2 linked regions of the Homo sapiens genome follow. The protein of the gene in region 2 purifies or fractionates together with the protein of the main gene of each other region. This does not show direct contact. Each region holds a gene or a part of one and is shown on either strand. Other genes may lie near its edges.

Region 1 (3,500 bases), on a different chromosome or scaffold from region 2:
ATACCACTGCTACATATATACTTAAAAAAAAGGAAATCAGTATATCAAAGAGGTATCCGGACTCTCATGTTTATTGCAGCGCCATTCACAATAGCCAAGATTTGGAAGAAACCTAAGTGCCCATCAACAAATTAATGAATAAAGAAAATGTGGCACTTAAAAACAGTGGAATACCATTCAGCCATAAAAAAAAATAAGATCCTATCGTTTGCAACAACATAGATGGAATTGGATGTCACTATGTTAAGTGAAATAAGCCAGGCACAGAAAGAAAAACTTCACGTGTTCTAACTTATCTGTGGGAGCTAAAAATTAAAACAATGGAATGCATGGAGACAGAGAGTAGAGTGATGGTTACCAGAGGCTAGCAAAGACAGTGGGTTGGGTGGAAGAGGGAATGGTTAATGAGCACAAAAAAATAGATAGAATAAATAAGATCTAGTATGTGATAGCACAACAGAGGGATTATAGCTAACAGTAATTTATTGTATATTTTAAAATAACTAAAAGAGTAGAATTGGATTGTGCTTAAGGTAATGGATACATACCTCATTTAGTCTGATGTGGTTATTATGCTTGAGGTAATGGATACATAATTACCATTGTGTATCCATTAAAGGATAAATGCTTGAGGTAGTGGATACATACCTCATTTAGTCTGACGTGGTTATTATGCATTGCATGTCTGTATCAAAATATCTCATGTGCCCCATATATACAGCTACTTTAGATGCCCACAAAATTAAAAATAAAAAATGTATTAAATTTAAAAAATCAATGAATAAAATAAAAGAATCAGTAAAGAAAGAAAAAGATTATCTATACATGCTGCAGTTCTATGAAGATTGAGTCCCTTTCCAGTTGCGATATACACTAAAAATTCCACTAACAGGACAAATACACTTTTATACTTACAATATCTGTCGTTAGCGCAGCACAGGGATGAAAATGATCAAAATAAACATCATCATGTTTTACTGAACATATATGCTTCTCTAAATCATTGTATCTCTCTCCACAGAGCACTAGATACGAAGAGCAAGAATATCCAAATTAATGGACATACGATTATTAGAATATGGATTTAAAACACAAAAATCCCTATAAAAAGCTTTGTAGTAAAATATAAAAATATATAGTAAAACATAAAAAAAATAAGCTTACCAAGTCTAACTTCATATGATTGATTTTTATATGAATGGTCTTGGAGAAAGTTGAGACATTTGTCAGCCTGTTTTTCAGAAATACATTTCTCTTCCATAATCTTGTCTGCCTGTTTCCAGTACTGTTTTACTGATTGCAGCCACCTTACAGAATAAACATGCATATAATTTAAATAAAATATAGAAGTATTTATCAAGAACTTGGATATTTTAAACAAAGAAAATTTCACAAGTTTAAAAATTTAGAGCATGCCCTCTCAATTTAAACCACCTGAGTTGACTTCAGAGCTGTGGACTTTGGGCAAATTCCTCAGCTTCTCTATGCCTCCCTTTCTCCATCATAACATAGAAGATAACGAAAGTATCTTTCTCATAAGGGTGTTGCGTGGCTTGAATGAGTTAGCGTGCCTGCCACATAGAAAGCACTGTGTGCTTGTTACCAGTGCTGCTGTTACTGCCATCGTCGCTGTTACCAGGAAAAATCAAGTCTGGTAACAAAACAATACTTGACGTTCATATAATGCTTTGTTGTTCTTATGATTGTCATCTGCAAGGTCAATGACTGTGTCCCAGTTATTTCCATTTTAGCTTTAATTATTGGATAAGGACAAAGAAAGGGGGATACAATTCTCTCTCTTACTTCAGATGACATTTACTTGAAAATTTTTAGAAATTGTCCTGCACAATTTCAGATCTGGCTATGGGAGACCTTGATTTTCTTTGGAGAAGATGTTTTCCTTCTCTAACTTCCAGGAAATATATCTTCAAAAAAATTTGAGAAAGCCAGACATGGTAATGTACACCTGTGGTCCCAGCTACTCAGGAGGCTGAGGTGGGAGGATTCCTTCAGCCCAGGAGTTTAAGGCCAGCCTGGGCAACAAAGCAAGACCACTGACGTTTCAAAGATTGGGTAATAAATTTATTTGAAAGTTATCATAGAAAAAACCTTAAAGACTTCAGACCATATAGACAGTATATAATTCAACCACTGAATATATAACAACCACTCTTTTTACCTATACCTACTTGGTGAGAAGATTTGGGTTATTTATGGTAGCTGAAAGAACCAAAAAGGGACATCGAATAATGACAAGGAGGAGCTCCCAAAATTTTGCTCCAACTTCTCTGCCAAGATAATGGACCTAGTAAAGAAAAAAAAATCAGTTGAAAAGTTGATGTCAAAATCGTAAATAAAAAATAGAAGCATAAAATCATCATGCATATTTTTCCAGTTTCCTATAAATGACCTAACCTAAATAAAGTGAATGGTGATAAATTCAGACAATAGACATCATGACACTTAACTGTCTCCAATCTCCATATCGAAACCATTATTAATTCCTACAGATTCCAATTCCAAAAATCTATTTTGAAGCTATGTTTTTCTCTCCATTTTTTGTTGTCATTGAAGCCACCATCACCTGGCTTTCTACAACAGCCTTCTGATTTTTCTCTTAGCTTCCACTCTTTCTCTATACTTTCTTCACATCATAGCCCTAATGGTATTATTAAACAAAAATCAAATTAGGCTACATACCTAATTAAATCCCTACACTGTCCTCCCAATGCATTTACAGTAAACCACAAGCTGCTTAACTGGAAGTGTAACTTCCTGCATGGTCTGGCTTCTTCCCACCTTTCCAACCCCATCTCAGGCCACTTTCCCCGCCATGCACTCTGCTCCCAACATACTGGCCTTCTTTTCATACCTTGAACACACGTGTTCCACCTGAGGGCCTTCACATATACGACCCTGCTACTTAAAATCCTCATCCACCTCTTAGCTGACCATTCCTGCTTATCCCTGCAAAGCCCAGCTGAAGGTCATTGCCTCAGAAACACCTTCCCTGAGTACCTGCTCCAAAGTTGTTGTTCTTACTTCCCATTTTGCTATTATCTTGGTGAAAACTAACTGATTTTTTTTTCTTCAGAGTTTGTATCACAATGTTTACTTATATTTTCATTGGTACATTTACTTATTTAATTGCTCTCCCCTTCACTAAACCACAAGGTCAGTACTGGCATATCAGGGAGAAAGCACAGTGTCTAGCACAGAGTAGGTACTCAATTAATATCTGTTGAATGAATGAATCAATCCTCTTTGGTTCAATAATGCAAATTAAGACTTAGAGAGGAGGTCCAAATTTTGGTCTTAAACAGAATACATCGTGACAATTGGGTCTCAGCTGGAAAGACTTACTAATCAAGGCTAGTAATAAATACATAAAGAAGAATATTTTCATATCCCTTCTGACTTTGATCTAGTCAGATAATCGCCCACTTTACCAAATGCTAATCTTATATTTTGTATCAGCAGGCAATTTCTCTGAACTTTCT
Region 2 (3,500 bases):
CTTCCCCCATCTTTGCATCCCATCCCTCCACAGCCAGAGCTGCCTGGCCAGGGGCACGTACCCCGCTGCCCCAGACGTAGTACATGTAGGCAGCTGCCTCCTTCCTGTTCAGCTTGTACACCTGCTGCAGCTTCCGCAGGTACACCTCTGCCTCCTCCTCCTCATTGGCGAAGCTCCGGACAGTCTTCATGGCACTGATGGTCTCCTCCGCCGTGTTGCTCGCTCTGGCCAGGGCATTCTGGACCTCTTTGGAGAGCCTCTATGGACAGGAGGGGGACAAGAAGGAGAAGACCCCAAAACAGCCTCACTATGTACTGGAGCCCCCAGGCCTCTCTGGGTTTTTCCACCCTTCGCTGGCACCAGCTATATGCAAGAGGTTCCTAGGACAAAAAGACAAGATCTAGCCCTTTCTCCCCCATCCCCTTCTGGCTCAATTTGACACACTCAGGTAGTCAACTCCAGAGAGGCTCTTGGGGCAATGGTTTCAGCTCCTGAAGGATAGGGCACGGTGCTGATCGTTAAGTCATCCCCAGTATTCAAAAGAGGCTATTCATGACTGGACAGTTTTTGGTAATCCTTTCAGAAAAGGGGCCTCAACACCTGACCCTGTGCTGGAAGAGCAGGGGATGCCTTGGACGGTTGTTCAGGTTGTACACTATTTAAGAAACACCAACTATTAAAGGGGCACCATTTACATCATCAACATAAATTATGTTAGAGCCTGAGGGTTGATAAAGAGATTCCAGAACTCCCAGCCAAGTTCTACATGGTGGCAGGGGCCATGGGTTGTGAAATCTGCCCACACCATGTGCATGTCACCACAGGCAGAGCTGAAAAGTGGTCCCAAGTGTGCGGCCATCAGGCTGCTGTTCACCAGAGTCCTGGAAGAGGCCCCTGGGTGGAGCTGTTCACACTTTGCAGGAGTCACTATGCTGATTCTCAAGCCAGCCAGGAAGGCTGCCTGAGAGTCCAGGACAGGAGCATGCACTGGCATGTCCCATGACCATGTGTCACGCCCCAGCCGCAGGAAGCATGCAGGGTGCCTGAGTCATGTTTGGCCATGGGCGGTGTGTGTGGTTTGTGGAGATGACTCGCTGGCTACACACAACACATTCAGGCATGGGGTGGAAAACCCAAACAGAGCCTTCCTGAGGCCTCCCTTAGCTGAACTAAAAGGCAGGGCCTGCAGTGCACACAGAGGTGGGGGCTGAGGGGGAGCTCCAGGGTTTCTTGCTCCATCCCAGGGGCTGGTGGGAAGGCCGGAAGCAAGGGGTGGGGAGCAGCGTGCCAGAAATGGCTCAGACTCTAAAGAATAGATTTACTTTCTCATCTCAGTGAGGACGGTGGGGAGGCTCGTGACCAGGAACTTCGGGAAGAGGTCCTACCTGTGTGGCTGGAGAAGACTGTGGGGAGTGGCCTCACCGGGGGCTGGGTGGGAGATGGCTTCCTTTGCTACCCTGGTCTCAGGTCACCAACACCAAAGGCTCCAATGGAGCTGCGACAATGACTTACCCGGCACCACCTGGAGGCCGTCATGCATCCAAGCCCCTGCTCTAGAAGTACCCCACGTGGGCCTGGGTGACTGTGAGGGGGTTGCCTGTACCTGTCACAGGGTCACAGCCCTGCCTGTCTGAACCCAGCCTGTCTGTCCCTTAGGGCTCGGGGGCACCCGCCCATTCAGGAAGCAGGAGGAGGGTGAGGTCAAACCTGGCTCACGGCCCTAGCTCGGAAGCAGAAGCAGTGCCGTGGGGTGGCCAGAGGGGACAGCAGCCTGCCCATGATGGCATCACAGCGGGCCCGCGATGGCATCACAGCGGGCCCGCACCACCCCCACATACACACCAGGCACGTTCCAACCCAGGGCCTTTTCACTGGCTGTGCCCTCTGCTCAGCACATACCTCCCAAGATGCCCGCCTCCTTCAGACCCTTATTCAGATGTCCCCTTCTCAGCAAGACCTATTTAACTTGTATTTATTCATTCATTTTAGAGACAGGGTCTTGCTGTGTCACCCAGGCTAGAGTATAGTGGCACGATCATTGCTCACTACAGCCTCGACCTCCTGGGCTCAGGCGATCCTCCACCTCAGCATCCCAGGTAGCTGGGACCACAGGCATGCGCCACCAAGCCCAGCTAACTAAAAAAAATTTTTTTTTGTAGAGATGGGGTCTTGCTATATTGTCCAATCTTGTCTCGAACTCCTAGGCTCAAGTGGTCCTCCTGCCTGTGCCTCCCAAAGTTCTGGGATTACAGGCATGAGCCACCGGGCCCAGCCAGTAAATCCAATTTAAAATTGCAGCTACACCCAATGCTCCCAATCCCTCTGCTCACTTCATGTTTCTCCTTAGCACTGACCATCTTTTACTGTATTGTGGATTCTCATTCTTTATGCTGTTGGTACCTAGTATCTGTCTCTGACACTAGATACAAGTTCCAGGAAGGCAGGGGCCTTGTCTTTTTCACTGATGTATCCCAGTGCCTGGGACATAGCAGGTGGTCAATAATTATTTATTGAATGAGCGAAGAAATGAATGAATGAATGCAAACACAGCCTCAAGACCTGTCCTTCACTAGCCCTTAGTGGCCCCCTGAGCCCCTCCTAAGGGGATGTTTGGGGGCTGCCAGGGTGCACAGTCCCCAGCAGAGACAGGGCAGGCCTACCTTGTAGTACTTGCCGTAGATGTTGGACACCATCATGATGATGGGGAAGCCCATGAAGGTGACCAAGGAGAGCTGCCATGAGAGGCTGAACATGAAGACCACCACGCCCGTGACCTTGACTGTGTTCCGCAGGAAGACATTGATGTTCTGGGAGACCAGGTCGCTGACCATGGTGGTGTCCGAGGTCAGGCGGGAGATGAGGTCCCCTGGAACACACGCGGCTCAGCTCTCACCACAGCAACCCGGGCCTTGGGGGTGGCGGTGGGGGATGCTAAGGGGCCTCTGAGACAGACACTGGGAAGCCGGGCCTCCCTACCTGTGGGCGGGGTTGGGGGGTGGGGGAGAAGAGCAGATACCCCTCGAGGGCTACTCTGAGCCAATCCCAGTCATCAGCATCTTGCTTAAGCTTCATGACATCCCGCTGTACAGCGGAGGAGGCTGGGGCTCAGAACAGGAAGGCCCCCGTAGAGTCACACAGCCTGTCCGTGACTGAGCCAGACTTCAAACCCATGTCTCCTCCCTGTCACTGGCAGAGGGGGTAACTCCTCTTCCCTTCTAGGGAAATAACAACCTGGCTGGTGGCGGGCAGGAAAGCGCAGACACTTCTTACCTAAGTTGGACATTGTGCTAAGAGCTGTGTAAGGACCCCATGGGGTGGCTACTATCCGTGTTCCCATTTTACAGACAAGAAAACAGAGGATCAGAGAGGTGAAGTTCGTGAGTGGAGGAACCAGGGCTTCGACCCAGGCCGGTGTCTCTCAGAGCTTGGATCTTGGTGGATATTCTATCGTCTTCCCCGTTGTGGCCCCTGGCCCTCACCTGCTGACCCCCATGGGAGCA

The links. Proteins that work in one complex are often made in the same cells at the same time.
Region 1: the proteins of ABCB9 (region 2) and DDX60L fractionate together in Homo sapiens (co-fractionation; one large-scale study listed by BioGRID). This does not show direct contact.

What each region holds. Positions count from the first base shown.
Region 1 is NC_000004.12:168,414,493-168,417,992, forward strand, and holds part of DDX60L (probable ATP-dependent RNA helicase DDX60-like), read right to left. Parts: intron 2,306-3,500; coding exon 2,190-2,305; intron 1,308-2,189; coding exon 1,165-1,307; intron 1,026-1,164; coding exon 916-1,025; intron 1-915.
Region 2 is NC_000012.12:122,945,964-122,949,463, forward strand, and holds part of ABCB9 (ABC-type oligopeptide transporter ABCB9), read right to left. Parts: intron 2,867-3,500; coding exon 2,661-2,866; intron 260-2,660; coding exon 62-259; intron 1-61. UniProt on the Homo sapiens protein: ATP-dependent low-affinity peptide transporter which translocates a broad spectrum of peptides from the cytosol to the lysosomal lumen for degradation.